2 linked regions of the Homo sapiens genome follow. The protein of the gene in region 1 interacts with the protein of each later gene in a pairwise test. Each region holds a gene or a part of one and is shown on either strand. Other genes may lie near its edges. The genes, in order: RBAK and EIF1AD.

The links.
Region 2: the proteins of RBAK (region 1) and EIF1AD interact in binary tests that used the Homo sapiens proteins (3 or more experiments, as listed by UniProt).

The regions. Positions count from the first base shown.
Region 1 is NC_000007.14:5,052,123-5,056,150, forward strand, and holds part of RBAK (RB-associated KRAB zinc finger protein), read left to right. Parts: intron 1-4,028. UniProt on the Homo sapiens protein: May repress E2F-dependent transcription. May promote AR-dependent transcription.
Region 2 is NC_000011.10:65,996,045-65,999,157, forward strand, and holds the end of EIF1AD (probable RNA-binding protein EIF1AD), read right to left. Parts: intron 2,700-3,113; coding exon 2,555-2,699; 3' UTR 501-2,554; downstream 1-500.

The sequences.
Region 1 (4,028 bases):
CCTTATCCCTGCTAGTATTCCAGGCTGAAATGTACTTTGTTATTTATGTAGCATTCTTTTGAGTAATGCATGCATGGTATATCTTATTCCATCCTTTTACTTATAACGTATTTGCATCTTTATATCTAAAGTATTATTTCTTGTAGGCAGCAAGATTTGGATCTTGCTTGTTTTCATCAGTCTATTTCTGCCTCATAATTGGGGATGTATAGACTGTTTACATGTAATGTAATTATTGATAAAACTAGTTAGGTTATAGTCCATTGCCTTTGCTTTCTTTTAGTCTCATCTTCTTTGTTTCTTTTTAAAATGTCTTTGTTTGTCTTCCTTCCTCTTGATTAATTGATAATTTTTTATGATTCTACTTTATATCTTTTGTTGAGTTTTTAGCTATCACACTGTTTTGTTATTTTAGTGAGTTAGAATTTATAGTATGCAACTTTAATTATCATAGTTTATTCTTAAGTGATATACCATTTTTCTTAGAGTAAGAGAAGCTTACAATAGGATACTTTCATTTCTCTCCTCTTGGTCTTTACACCGTTGTTCATTTTATTTTTACAGGTGGTATCAGTGCCACACAGAATCTATTACGTTGTTGTTAATTAAACAGTTATCTTTGATTGATTGATTGATTGATTGATTGATTGATTTTGAGTTGGAGTCTCACTCTGTCCCCCAGGCTGGAGTGCAGGGGTGCGATCTTGGCTCACTGCAACCTCTGCCTCCCAGGTTCAAGTGATTCTCCTGCCTCAGCCTCCCGGGTAGCTGGGATTACAGACACCCACCACCACACCCGGCTAATTTTGGTATTTTTAGTAGAGATGAGGTTTCACCATGTTGGCCAGGCTGGTCTCAAACTCCTGACCTCAGGTGACCTGTCTGCCTCAGCCTCCCAAAGTGCTGGGATTACAGGTGTAAGCCACCACACCCAGCCCAGTTATCTTTTAAAAAGATTTAAGTAATGAGAGAAAATACACAGTTACCATTTCTGGTACTCTTCATTCCTTTGTGTAAATCTAAATTTTTATTTGCTGTCATTTTACTTCTGCCTCAAGGACTTTCTTTAACATTTCTTCTAGTTGATGAATTCTTGTACGTCTGCAAATGTCTTCATTGTGTCTTAGCTTTTAAAGGTGTTTCTGCTGGATATTTCTCCACAGTGCTTTAAATATGTTTCTCTATTGTCTTCCTGCTTACATTTTTTTCTAAGAGAAATCTGATCTCATATTCATCTTTGTTCCCCTGTATATAACATGTCTTTTTTTCTTTCCCCCCTTATGTTGTAAACTTTTTATCACTAGTTTTGGGTAATTTGATTGCAATATGTCATGGTATCATTTTTTTCATGTTTCTGTTTTGGGGATCACTGAACTTCTTGGATCTTGGGTTTATGGTGTCATCACTTTGGGAACATTTTTATCATTATTTCTTCACATACCCACCACCTCCCCTCCATTGATTCTTGTTGCCTGTATATTAGGCCACTTGAAATTTTCCCACAACACACTGTTGCTCTTTATTTGCTTTTAATTCTTTTTTCTCTGTTTCATTTTATGTAACTTCTGTTGCTGTCTTTATATTCACTAATCTCTTTTTTCCACGATGCTGTTAATCTTGTCCAGTATAATTTTCATCTCAGATATTGTAGTTTCTATCTGTAGAAGGTTAGCGTGGGTCTTTTTTACATCTTGCCTGTCTCAATTTTTTTGAACATGTGGAATAGAATGATGAACTCTCTCAGTGCTCTGTGTGGGTTGTAAACTCTGTCAATTCTGGGCCAGTTTTGATGGACTGATTCTTTTCTTCCTTATGGTTGTAATTTCCTGCCCATTTTCCCATCTCGCAACTCTTACACCTCACATCTGTCTCTGTTCTTCTTCCCTGCTCTGTGGCCTGGAAACACTCAAGGCAGAAGTTGATTGGTTCACCTTGTTTATTTCCCATCACTCATAGATAACTCTACTGCCTGATAATCAGTGCCTTGAAAACCATTGCTTCAGCCCGGGCGTGGTGGCTCATACCTGTAATCACAGCACTTTGGGAGGCCAAGGAGGGCAGATCACAAGGTCAGGAGTTTGAGACCAGCCTGGCCAACATAGTGAAACCCCTTCTATACTAAAAATACAAAAATTAGCCAGGCATGCTGGTACACGCCTGTAATCCCAGCTACTTGGGAGACTGAGGCAGGAGAATCGCTGGAACCCGGGAGACGGAGGTTGCAGTGAGCCAAGATTGTGCCATTGCACTCCAGCCTAGAAGACAAGAGTGAGACTTTGCCTCAAAAAAAAAAAAAAAAACCATTGCTTCATATATGTTCTCCGTTTTATTTTTCTTTCTGTTTTTGATTTTGTTGTTGCTGCTGTTCTTTGTTATGTGCCATTTCAGGTTGGAGGGTATATCCAGTACCTGTTAGTTTATCACAACTGAGGGCAGAAGTCCTCATGTCTCTCTCTATATATATTTTTTCTAATATATATATTTTTTTCTTTGTAGAGACAGGGTCTTGCTATGTTGCCAAGGCTGGTCTCAAACTCCTGGCCTCAAGCAGTCCTTCTGCCTCAGTTTCCTGAGTGCTGGGATTACAGGCATGAGCCACTGCACCTGGCCTGGATCCAGTTTTGTCCATGTCCAAATGGTGTTTTTCCCTGAGCTGTTTTTGATTTTCTTCCACCTCATATGAACTGTAGTGTCAGCTTATCTAGTTCCAGGAAAAAGCTTTTTGGTATTTTTACTGGGGTTGCATATTTATAAAGTAATTTAGGGTAACTGACTTACCCTAGGTAGGGTAAGTTGACCTTAATAATACAACTAATTTTTTTTGTTTGTTTGTTTTTTAGTAGAGATGGGGGTTTCACCATGTTGACCAGGCTGGTCTTGAACTCCTGACCTCGGGTGATCTGCCCGCCTCGGCCTCCCAAAGTGTTGAGATTACAGGCGTGAGCCACCGTGCCCGAGCACTTTTACTTTTTCTTAGTTATATTCCTCTAATTGTTTTATCTTCTCTAATTGTAGATAATGAGCATTTTATTAATACCTTGTTCTTGATCTTAGTAGGAAGGTATGTAGTTTTTCCCTGTTAAGTAAAATCCTGACTTTTGGACCGAGAAGACTGAGGCATAAATGTGTGTGTGTGTGTGTGTGTGTGTGTGTGTGTGCGTGCGTGTATATACACACAAACTGTATATATATGTGCTTGTGTGTAATTGAAATACATATGTCACATATATATCATACATACTATTGCATATTAGGGTGCAATATTTATATTTGTGTATATACATGTTATTGATGTTAATGAAGTATCCATCAGTTTCTATTTTCTTTAGTTTGTTTTTTTAAATCAGCTTTTTCTGTCAAGCTTTTTCAGGTATCTTCACGGATACAAGATTTTTCTTCTTTGCTGTGTTATAGTGGCTTATCATATTAATAGATTTCCAAATATTAAACTAGTCTATATTATTGGAATAAGTCCCATTTGGCTATTGTATATTATGTTTTTAATCTGGTACTGGATTTTGTTTGATTATGTTTCATTTTGGGTTTTTGTATTGATGTAAGTGGTATTGGCATGTAATTTTATGTTATTTATTGGTTGATCAGTCTTCTAACCCCTACTACCTCCTTGCCTTCTGGACTAACTTAACCCAGAAGGTTATTACTCTCTCTCGGTGATTTTATCAGCTCCTGTGGCCTGACTGTGGATAAGCTTGGATGTTCTGCTTTAGTTTCTCAGCCCACAGCCTAGCGGCCCTGCCTCTGCTATCTCTTGGGATCTACATGGTCCTAGCTGTATCACTGGATTTGAACCCCTTGTTGATATGTTCTTTATAAATAATAGGATAATGCAGCCTGCTTACTGGGCACTTCCTTTTTCTAAACTACAAGTTTGGGCAGGGCGTGCTGGCTCAAGCCTGTAATCCCAACACTTTGGGAGGCCAAGGCAGGTGGATTGCTGGAGCCCAGGAGTTTTGCATTTTTCTTTTTTTTTTTTTTTTTTTTTGAGACAAGGTCTCACTCTGTTGCCT
Region 2 (3,113 bases), on another chromosome or scaffold:
GACAGATTAGAAATTCCAAAAAAGATCCATATATATGCAGGAATTTATGTTTTAAAAGATATTTCTGGCCAGGCGTGGTGGCTCATGCCTGTAATCCCAGCACTTTGGGAGACCAAGGCAGGCAGATCACGAGGTCAGGAGACTGAGACCATCCTGGCTAACAACGGTGAAACCCCATCTCTACTAAAAATACAAAAAATTAGCCGGGCGTGGTGGTGGGTGCCTGTAGTCCCAGCTACTCAGGAGGCTGAGGCAGGAGAATGGCGTGAACCCGGGAGGCAGAGCTTGCAGTGAGCCGAGATGGCGCCACTGCACTCCAGCCTGGGCAACAGAGCGAGACTCCGTCTCAAAAAAAAAAAAAAAGAAATATTTCCAGTGAGCAAAGAATGAACCTTTCAAGAAATAGTACAGGGACAAGTGACTTTCCCTTTAGGGAAAGTTTGCTACCTCTCAGAAAAAACAAACTTCAGATGAATTAAAGATAGATACACACACATACATATCTTTAACCCATCTCGTTTATTTTTTGTATATACATCTACATACATTTTATACATTATATTCATATATACATATATACAAATGTATATATGTTTAAAGCCACGCTATAAGAGAAAGTAAATGAGAAACAGACAAATGAAGTGGTAGCTGGAGGACGTGGGAATCAGTACAGGTTTTCACGCCTGTTTCAGAAATGGGAGATTCTACAGCACGCTCGACACTAACACATCACATCCATAACATATCACATCCAATAGACAGGACAGCCAAAAACACAAAACAAAAAAAGAATCAAATACCCACACCCAGACACAATACTCAACAACACAAATACCCGACCAAAGTCTTTAAGAAAGCAAAAGAGGCCGGGCACAGTGGCTCACACCTGTAATCCCAGCACTCTAGGAGGCCAAGGTGGGTGGACCACTTGAGGTCAGGAGTTCGAGACCAGCCTGGCCAACATGGCAAAACCTCGTCTCTACTGAAAATATAAAAATTAGCCAGGCATGGTGGCACACGCCTGTAATCCCAGCAGTTTGGGAGGCTGAGGCAGGAGGCTCATTTAAGGTCAGGAGTTCGAGACCAGCCCGGGCAACATGGCAAAACCCCGTCTCTACTAAAAATACAAAAAGTTAGCCAGGTGTGGTGGTGCACGCCTGTAGTCCAAGCTACTCGGGAGGCTGAGGCAGGAGAGTTACTTGAACCCAGTAGGTGAAGGTTACAGTGAGCCGAGATCACACCACTGCACTCCAGCCTGAGCAACACAGGGAGACACTCTCTCAAAAAAAAAAAAAAAAAAAAAAAGATAGTCTCCAAAACACAAGAGGTAAGGTTTAAGTCCCATTGGCTTACGACAGGAAGATATGTGCACATCTGCAGAGCTGGTAACAGGGAGGCAGGCATTCCCTCTGATGGTTGCTGTTTCTTAATGAGGCATGTGTTGTGGTAACTACCACAAGGGGGAATTGATAGATAAGACAGAAGTTTTGAAACAGACATCCCAGAGTAGATCTGCTGGGCAGTGCTTAGTGTCCATCTGAGGTTTGTAATGATAAACGTAAGGTACAACTGGTGGCCAGGCTGGCTGTTTTCTCACCTAATGATGGTGACTTGGGTTTGGGCACAGAGGTGAATGATTGGGTTTACCCAGGGTTAGGGTTTTACTAGCGGAACAGAATGGAGGGAGACAGAGGGGTGTAGGGTGGACTACGGAATTGATGCTACACAAGAGGGAAGTGAAGGCAGAAGGTTACTCATGAGAATGTCAGGGCTGGTTAGAAGAATGAAGGGTGAGGGTGGAAAAGCAGCCTCTATTTAAAAGGTTATAAGACAATCAATGTCCTCAGGGAATAATCAGGTTTCAAATAAAGTCAGGAGATGGATGGACCATTCAAAACAAAGTTAAGGATAGAGAGATTTGCCAGCCACCTTCTGGAAGTGATAGATGGTGCAGAGTGGGAGAGATGAGGTCGTATGTGGGGATGGACACAGTAGCTGGAGGTGAGCACTCCCGTACACAGGGTGACTAGAAAGGCGGGGAGAACAGCACGAGGCACCATGGGCTCCTGAGCGTCTCTTAGAGGCAGGTGGGTGTTAGGTCCTAGGGCTGTCATCCTGAATGCTTAAATTGGTATGAACTGCAAGCAGGCAAGGAAGCAGGAGTGCTCCCAGCTGTTAAACACATGCAAGAAGGCCCAGAGCACGGCCTGGCACTTTCTAAGTGCCCAATAAGAAAGAACAAACCACCTGGGAAAGACTCCAGCCATTTCCCATTTCCTCCCCATTCAGCCCACCCACCCACAAGGTCTCTAATAAATAGGGAGCAGTTTTTCACTTCATCACAATCTCCCTCCCCCGAGAGAGCCACTCAGACACCAGAACAAGTCACCAACCCACCAGGGGTTTAATTCTCTGAATCAAAAGATCAGTTCAGAGAGGAGCCCTGCTTTGTCCTCATGCAGGGGTGAAGATGTGCAGAGCACCCTGGGAATGTCCAAGCCCAGAAGAGCCAGGGGCCAGTCCCTGAGCAAGTGGAGAATTGGGTCCTGGAGTCTCAGGCTGCCTCCTCCTCTTCACTCTCCTCCTCACTCTCATGATACTGTCTGCGGTTTGTGTTAACAAACAGGTCAGAATCATCTTCTGAGCTGGACTCCTCTCCTGATAACTGTGGCTCAGCTGGGAGTTCTGGTTGAGTTTGTCTGCACGAAGGGAAGAGAGCAGGGTTAGCCCAGCGCCTTCTGGGAAAATAATATCTACAATCAAGGAGTTCCAAAAAAAGGACCATCCGGCCCAGCAGTCAGGGCCCTACAGCACCCTTTAAAGACTCAAACAAGGGACACAGGAGAGCAAACAGTGGGGAAACGTGGCCAAAGAAACAGGCTAAAGACTGACCCCACTCCCCAAACGTGTGCCACAGCCATTTGTTTTAGTTAGAAATAATGATTCTACGACCACCAACTAACACTTAATGGACCCATATCACATAACAGATACTGCACTAAGCAATTTTACAAGCCATCCACTTCTTTAATCCTCACAAAGCTCCCATTTTACATATAAGAAAATAGAGTTTGAAGGAATTAAATAACGTGCTTAAAGTCATTCAGCTTTAA